Regions from separate parts of the Homo sapiens genome. Here region 1 is linked to region 2. The links come from fine-mapping of genetic effects on gene expression. A gene starts in region 2. The other region holds a variant in brackets. All regions are shown on one strand. Distances are from middle to middle. Region 1 overlaps TASOR2 (transcription activation suppressor family member 2). Region 2 holds the start of TASOR2 (transcription activation suppressor family member 2).

What was found. PIP is the estimated chance that this variant, and not a neighbour inherited with it, causes the effect. A credible set is the group of variants that fine-mapping cannot tell apart.
Region 1: its variant is the best candidate, but not a certain one, in a credible set for the expression of TASOR2 in whole blood (TOPMed, PIP 0.78).

The regions. Positions count from the first base shown.
Region 1 is chr10:5,759,277-5,763,650 of GRCh38, forward strand. TASOR2 (transcription activation suppressor family member 2) reads left to right here. Exons shown (of 22, transcript NM_001321783.2): 20 at 2,014-2,195; 21 at 3,256-3,370; 22 at 3,753-4,374. The coding sequence ends at 3,756. Among named protein-coding and RNA genes, the nearest start is that of GDI2, 52 kb to the right of the region's middle. The variant C/T (reference allele first, on the strand shown) is at 2,450.
Region 2 is chr10:5,682,543-5,686,940 of GRCh38, forward strand. It overlaps TASOR2 (transcription activation suppressor family member 2), which reads left to right and starts at 2,296. Exons shown (of 22, transcript NM_001321783.2): 1 at 2,296-2,633. RefSeq lists enhancers at 1,850-2,089, 2,230-2,339, 2,960-3,139 and silencers at 2,390-2,649, 2,690-2,739.

The DNA.
Region 1 (4,374 bases), 77 kb after region 2:
TATATGGAACTTGTACCATTAATGCTTTTTTGGATACTTATAAGTTGCCACCACTTTAAGGAGAATGGAAAAATTAAGACCATAATCTATCCTTAATTCAGTTGTACCCTAAAAGAAGAGGCTTATAAATACGCAAACTTCACTAAGTCTAAAGCTGTAATTTATAAAAGAAAAAAATACATGTTTGATTCCTTGGCTGAAGAGAGCTGGGGCTGAGAGATTCCTCCACATTCTCACAAGCAGGACCAATTGGAAAAGCAGACCTGACAAGCCCTTGTGAAATAAGGATTTCAGGCACTGTTAGGTGCATCCATTTTCATTCAGACTTCATCCCCAGGAGCTAGATAGCAAATCCTCACTTTTATAATGCAGAACTGAAGCAGAGTAGATAACAAACATGACCAAGGTCAAACAAGTAGTAAGTTATGAAGCTGGGTTTCAATCCCAGAAAGACGAAACGACTGTTAGCTGTATGTGACCTTTGAGGAACAGAATCTCAGAAAGCTTTTCTCTTGAAGTGGAGCTAGCAAAGGAGAGAAGGAGCACAGAGGTTTCCTTGGCAGGAAAGGAGGGTGCAAAGGCTTCAGCAGGTCAAGGGTATGACCATTCACAGCGGACTTCAGTAACCAGCACTTGAGGGGAAAAACGTCAACTTCGGTAAGTAGAGAAGCACATTTAAGGTTCTGATGTACCACAGCACACCTATAAAATAAGCATAAATCAATCTAGCACTTCTAGGGCTTTGGGTAGAGAAAGTCATGTCACTTAACGACGGGGATACAGCCTGAGAAACGTCATAAGACGATTTTGTCTATGTGCAGACATAGAGTGTACTTACACAAACTGATATGGTAGAGCCTACTCCTAGATTGCAAACCTGTACATGTGACTGTACTGAATACTGTAGGCAGATTTAATGCAATGGTGGTATCTGTGTGTCTAAACACAAAAAAGGTTCAGTAAATTACAGTAGTATAATTTTATGGGACCACCATTGTATATGTGGTCCGTCATTGACTGAAACATCATTATGTGGTACATGCCCGTACTCACTGCTGTTGGCGCTGCAGTATGCTCTTCATATTATACCACTCTGGCATTATGTAACAGGCGTTATGTATTATTGAGAACTCATTAGAAAACTCTTCATATCCTTTGACCTTTTGTGGAATTTACCCAAAATTCTAGGTGGTTATCAGTCATTGCAAAACCAACCTCAGTTCCATCTCTAGGAGGGAGATATGCAGACTACAGTTAAATATTTTAAAGTTTATACAAAATAATGCCCACCCAAAACTTACACAATAGAAGCATGTAAAAAGTTTCTATTCATAGAAAGAGGGATGGCATAAAAGTTGGTATCATGTAACTATGTTCAGTATGATGTCATAAAAAATTTATACAGGAAAAAGTGAAAGGAAATTAATTCATGATGTTAAGAGTGATTATCACTAGGGTTATGGGAATGGGTGTGATTTGGGTTTTCTCCAACAAGCATGAGAATGTAAGTGATGAAAACTAGAGAGACGGGAGTCGAGCAGAGACAGAAATGCTAAAAATTTAAACATACTGAGTTAACACATTTTCCTAGTAGTGATAGAATTTTCAGGGAAGCAAGAAACCAAGAAAATTCTGGCTGCTACCTAATTTTAATGAAGTTGGCGATTATCTGCCCACAAGGTATGAGAAGTATAGATGTGCATTGCTCTACAAATATACAACGCAATAAGGCCCACTCGAAATTCATGAAAGGCTTGCCAAGCCACATGGCTTGATTGGTCGTAGGTAGATGCATGATGTCCCTCTTAGAATGAGGCCCATGTTTAAAATCCACATTTACAAAAGGAGTAGGTACAATTGTGATGTTTTGAGGTAACCAAAGTGTGTCATGAAAAAGAACGTCAAGAAGAAAGGCAGAGGAACTCATGAGTTTGAATGGTTAAACTGAAGGCAAGAAAAAGTCCTAAGAATAAAACTGAAAAATATTTTAATATGCCTATGTATCTTTCACAGAGTGGATTCAACTGCACATAAGAAGAACATAATGTTGAAGTCATTTCAGAGTGCAAATATCATTGAATTGCTTCATTATCACCAGTGTGACTCTCGATCATCAACAAAAGCAGAAATTCTGAAATGTTTGCTAAACCTGCAAATTCAGCATATTGATGCCAGGTTTGCTGTCCTCCTAACAGGTAATTCACAGGCGCATTTTACTCAGTTAATGCCAAAATTGGTCAGCTCTAGGAATGTCAAAGTTAGATACCTGATGAAGAGTATCAGGTATCTAAATGGCTTGGCATCCCATGGATACCAGAATCACCCAAATCTGCTGAAGCTGAAGCCCTTATATAAAATGTAGTATTTGCAGGTAACTACACAATCCTCCTATGTATGTAAGTCAGTTCTAGATTACTTATAATACTCAATACAGTATAAGTAGTTATAC[C/T]GTATTATTTTTTAAATCAATACTGGGGCTGGGTGCAGTGGCTCACACCTGTAATCCCAGCACTTTGGGAGGCCGAGGCGGGCGGATCACTTGAGGTCAGGAGTTAGAGACCAGCCTAGCCAACATGGTGAAACCCCATCTCTACTAAAAATACAAAAATTAGTCAGGTGTGGTGGTTCATGCCAGTAGTCCCAGCTACTTGGGAGGCCGAGGCAGGAGAATGGCTTGAACCCCGGAGGCAGAGGTTGCTTTTAAAAAATTTGTGGGGCAGCCAGGGACAGTGGCTCACGCCTGTAATGCCAGCACTTTGGGAGGCTGAAGCAGGTGGATCACTGAGCCCAGGAATTTGAGGCCAGCCTGGGCAACTTAGCGAGACCTCATCTCTACAGAAGTTGGCAGGTGTGGTGATGTGTGCCTATAGTCCTAGCTACTTGGGTTAAGGCAGAAGGATTGCTCGAGGCTGCAGTGAGCCGTCATCACACCACTGCACTGTAACCTGGGTGGCAGAACAAGACCCTATCTATCTTTAAAAAAAAAAAAAAAAAAGTGTTAAGAAAAATTTACGTAAAGAACCATAGTTATCATTTTTCAGGGATTTTTTTTCAGTACTTTAACCACCACCCCCGATGGAGGCATCTATTTCCAAAGCTTCAAATCTTTTCTTAATTTGGAACCCAACACCTTTTCTCCCCCTACCCCTCACACGAGGAAGTTCCACAGATTTTTTAAAATAAAAAACCAGGTCCTGTTATATAAAAGTACATTAATTATATTAACCAAAAGTTGTTTTTTTTTTTTTTTAACAGACAAGCCTACTATCCCCAGAGAAGTCTTTGAAAATAGTGGAATCCTTGTTACAGATGTAAATAACTTTATAGAAAACATAGAAAAAATAGCAGCTCCATTTAGGAGTAGCTATTGGTAAGAACACTTTTTATGTAACTTTCCCATGTGAGTTGGAGTTGTTGATGGCAAATATTGACATTTGTGTCTAAGGGAAACAGTTGGGAAACTGTTGTTTACATACTTCATGCTATAAATTTAAAGTGTTTGTTTAGGGGTGGAATTGCTATTTGGCATAAATAGGAATTCCTAAATTATCACTAAATGAAGTAACCATCTACTAAAATTACCTATTTTATCTAATGTGCATTTTCACTTGCTGTTAACTTGGATCGTCAGTACAGAACATAATGTAACCTTAGAATGCATAGGCGTTTTCCCCATTAGAGCATCCCGCTTATAAAATATTTCTTGTTCGTATTATTTTAAGAAGTTCTTTATCAATTTTGTGTTTCTTCAGGTGACTCAACTACAGCCTGCCTGGATATGGATGATGCCAATAAAAAATTAGTATTTTCCCTTTGGAAAACTTGTGAACATGTGAATACACATGTGAACAGTCTTACATTTGAAAAACCAATGTTCTACAACTTGGAAAGTTTTCATTTTTTATATTTTGCTGAAATATGTCACAGTGGCATTGCAGTTGTCTGTTAGCTTTGGGTTGCAGTGCTAGATATTGTTTTAAATTATTTTCATTTTAAACAAGATGCCTTCTAAGCTATTGAGCTTATTAAAAATAATTTTACATGTTTACTTAGTTGGAGCAAAAATAAGTCTATTTTAACAAATAGCTTTGTTTTTGCATGCTAATGTCAGAAAGGCATACGATGCACATTATGCTCTGTTTTAAAGGTTTTACCACCCTTGTAAAAACTATAATCTTAAATGGTTTTATTTGCTGTTACACAAACAACACTACATAAAACATTTTTTCCTAAATGGTACAAATTTATAAACTATCATTTTTCACTTACGGTATTTGTAAATACTACACTACAAAAATCAGCTTTCTGAGAAAGAAATAATCATTTATTTATGATATTGAAAATTTCTACAGTAAACACTCAAAACCAAGCAAA
Region 2 (4,398 bases):
TATACAGTTCAAACCACAAGCAAACTAAATGATAAAGTTTCAGGGTGCATATTTAGTTGGCAAACTTACTTTTAAAAGCAAAGAAGAGAGTACCATGGAAGTCAGAATAGTGCTTAGGCTAGGGAAGAGGGATGGGGTACTGGCAATGTTCTATTTCTTGATGGGGGTGTTGGTTTCATGAATATTTGCCTTGTGATAAATCATGGAGTTGTACATTCCGGTTTTGTGCACTATTAAAATGTTGTTGTACTTCACTCTCTACTTCCACAGTCAGCCTTCTTCTGTTCTTGAATAGGTTTCATTTCACTTCTCAAGTCCTTTGCACTTGCTTTCCCTTCTGCCTGGAAAGCTCTTCCTCCACGTATTCCAAGCTTTGGTTCTATCAGTTTTGATCTTTAGGGTTTGACCTCAGATGTGCCCATTTCAGTAAGATCTTGTAGCTCCACTACTTCTGCCCTTGGCCTCCAGCCCCCAGTCCCATCCACTAGCATTTCCAGTGAGTTTTCACAGCATGTATTGTTATCTGAGATTCTATTTTCTTGTCGTGGTGATTTACCTGTGTTTGTCACTCACCTCTGGAATAAATTCCATTATAGGCAGGGTCCTTATCTAGCTTGTTCATGATTGTAAAACCAGTGTCTATTACAGCACCTGGTTACAGTAAACAGTAAACACAATGACTGAATCTCTTGGTATTACCAGCACAGTGCTTGACTCATGATACATGTTCATTAGCACTTAATCTCTCTCATTGGTACAGTCATATGTCACTTAATGTTTCAGTTAACAACAGACCACATATCCAACAGTGATCTTATATGATTATAATAGAGCTGAAGAGTTCTATTGCCTAGTGATGTCGTAGCCATCTTAATTTCGTACAGCAACACATTACTCATATGTTTGTGGTGATGCTGGTGTAAATGAATCTACTGCACTGCCAGTCATATAAAAGTACAGCACACATGGCCAGGCGCAGTGGCTCCACCGTAATCCCAGCCCCCCAGTGGGACAAAATGGAGGTGAAGACAATGATGTTGATGATCCTGACCCTGTGTAGGCCCAGGTTAATGTGTGTTTGTGTCTTAGTTTTTAACAAAAAAGTTTAAAAAGTAAATTAAAAAAATTTTTAAATAGAAAAAAACTTACAGATTAAGGATATAAAGAAAATATTTGTGTACAATGTGTTTGTTTTAAGCTAAGTGTTATTACAAAAGAGTCTTAAAAAGTTTTTTAAAAGTTTTAAAAAGTTAAAAAGTTACAGTAAGCTAAGGTTAATTATGAAAAAATTTAAAAAAATAAATTCAGTGTAGCTTAGGTGTACAGTGTTTATAAAGTCTACAAGAGTGTACAGTAATGTCCCAGACCTTCACATTCTCATTGCTCACTCACAGACTCACCCAGAGCAACTCCCAGTACTGCAAGGTCCATTCGTGAGAATGCCTTACACAGGTGTACCATTATTTTTCATACTGTATTTTTATTGTACCTTTTCTATGTCTAGATATGCTTATACAAATACTTACCATTGTGTTATAATTGTCCACAGTATTCAGTACAATAACATATAGCATGGGTTTGTAGCCAGGAGTAATGGGCTATGGCTTATGGTGTAAGTATGTAGTAGGTTATGCTTCTAGGTTTCTGTGATGTTCACTCAAGGACCAAATTGCCTAATGAGGCATCTCTCTCATAAGGTGTCCCTACAGTTAAATGATGTTTGCATGACTATTTATCATGGGCAAGGGTAAACCTGAATTTATTGATGGTCACCTTAGCTCTCTGTGCATGTGTTATAAATTTCTAGAGATGCTTTCCTAGGGGGTAACAGCCACACCTACTATATGGATTAAAACAAGGGCAAAATTTCCAAAATGTCGCATTCGGGCCAGACAAATAAACTGTTCTTGCAGCAGCACCTGGGGAATGAAACGCTGAGAAGGGAGAAGGCGCCCGAAGGCGACCACGTGGGCCACAGCCACAGCACTGTAGGTCAGCCGAGAGAGCGTCTCCCGCCTCTTCCCAAGGGCATCTTCCGCCTCCTGTCAAGGGTCGGCAACGCGAGACACCACGCGCTCGTTGGGATCGGCCGCCTAATCAGGAGCGAGCTGTGGCCTTACGCCTGCGCAGAGGGGAGACGCGAGCGCCGCGTGGACGCTGACCTCGGTCCGCGCCTGCGCCTTGGTTTCTTCCCGGCGATTGGTTCCCATCTCTGAGGGAGACGCCTCACTTCAGTTTTCACTTTCTTTTTTTGCCCCCCCCTCCCCTTTTCTTTTCCTTTGGCCGCGAGGTTTTGCTTCCGGTTGCTAGCGCCGGTCAGAGAGAAAGTCGGCATGTTCTCGCAGGCTGCCGGGCGTCCCGGGGTTGCCTCTTGCCCGTGACCCTGACGGGAGACAGAGCGCGGGCGGCCGCGGCGTCCCTGTCAGCGCCCGCGGCGAGGACCCCGGGGCTGGGGCGGACGGCGTGCCCCTGAGGGGGGTCCCCGCGGGAGCGCGGAGCCGGCGACTGGTGCTTCCCACGTGCGCCGGTGTCGCGAGGGCCCGGGAGGACGCAGAGCACGGCCGGGAGAAGCATGGGAAGGAGGCCGAGCCGGGATCTCAGGTCCTCGGGGGCGGCGGCCACGCCAAGGACGGGTAAGTCCCTCCTCGGCCTGGGCGCCCGGGAACCCTGCGAGGAGGACGGCGGGTCCCCGAGGCCGAGCGCTCGGGCAGCTGCCGGGGCTTGGCTGCGAGGGTCGACGCGTTCTCCTTGCCTTTTGCCGCGCTCCGGGTGAGGGGGTGGGAGGGGTCGGCGCCTTCTAGATGACTCAACCTTCTGTCCTGCGCTACAACCTGTGGCCGCGCTCGGTGTCGCCGGCAGGGAGATCCTAACCGTGTCATCTTGCCCCTTTCTGAGGCGTTTCGTTTGCGTCGCCTGTCAGGGGACAGCTGCGTCCTCAGGGATATGCTGATAAGTTCTTGGCTGAAGTTTCCGTCTTCGGGTTTGCACCGGCTGGGAAATCATTTCCTGCGGGTTCTGCGTGAAGCCTGCTGCTACTCGAGACTTCATGGCAATGCGCCACCTTTTCTTTTTAGGGTAAAACAGGTCTCTCCGAAGGGAGGGTCATTTCAGCAGCAAGCGCAAGCCGCGTTGGGATAACTTGGTGCGAGCAACACAGAAGTTTGTCTGAAGGCGGCGCCAAGCAGCGTTTCGTGGGAGAACTGGGTTGATGACTGAAATTTTGAGGAAGATTACTTTGGGAATTCTCAAGTTTCTCTTAGTCGCTTCTTGTCTATTTGAAATCTGTAACTTTAAACAAACCACGCTTACTCTTCCTTATTCTCCCTGTAAGGTACAATTAGAATAGAAAAGTTTATGAAAGTGTATCCAAAACTTAAATATGTGGCGTACAAGTGTATGGTATTATTGGAATGGCATTCGCGATCCTAGAGTCTACAGTGTTCCCTGAATAAAACTAGGGGTGAGCCTGGCGGTAATCCTGCCTAGGAGGTTTATAGCAAAGCAGTGTCCCCTAACGGTGCAAGAATACCCTTCTGTCGAAAAACTGCCTTATAGGAATGGGTGACTGTATGCGGTATGTCCTGTACTGTACATCAATAAATAACTAAGCCAGGCCAGAAAAAGGGTGACAAAAGGTCCACAATTATGTTAAGGAAGACCAAGACGGTATATTTGAAGTTTTGTGTATACAGAACATTTGCCCAAATGTAACTAATTTTTTTAAAGGGAGATTATAAGCATCTCCTGTGGTCCAAACATAGTTGTTAAAATGGGTTAAAATCGGTGAAGTGCCTAAGAACTTGACTGAGACATGGTGTTTGTTAAATACAGTATACTATCTATTCAGTAAAAATAGATCAATATGGCATGTATTTATCAAGTGAATTTCATTTTTCTGTTGGTAGACATTCAAGTTATTTTCAAGATATCCCTATAACTGACAATACTGCAGTGATTATCTCTTGCTGTTATAAACAGTGCTTCAGGTGGTCATGATAGTATTTCTGTAGAATTGACTCCTTATGAGAGTGCTGGATAACCATGTTGCTAAATTGCCCTGAAATGATTGTACCTTTTTATGTTCACTCGCTCAAAAGATGTGTTTTTATCTCCATGCTAGCCAGCACTGGATGATAATGGTATTTTTAAAATATCTTAGCCACCTAGTAATTGAAAGTAACATTCTGTTTTAATTTTTATCTTCCTTGGTGAATACAAAAGTTAAATCTTTTTAGGCAGGTCATATCATTTGCTGATGTTTTTATTGAGTCTGAGCTCTCTTTTCTTTCGCCCATGTAACTATTACTGTAGCATTTTAATTATCATAGTTTTATAATATATTTTGGTACTTTCTTTTGAAAAAGAGCTTTGGGTTTTTCTTTTGCATTTTTTCTTCCA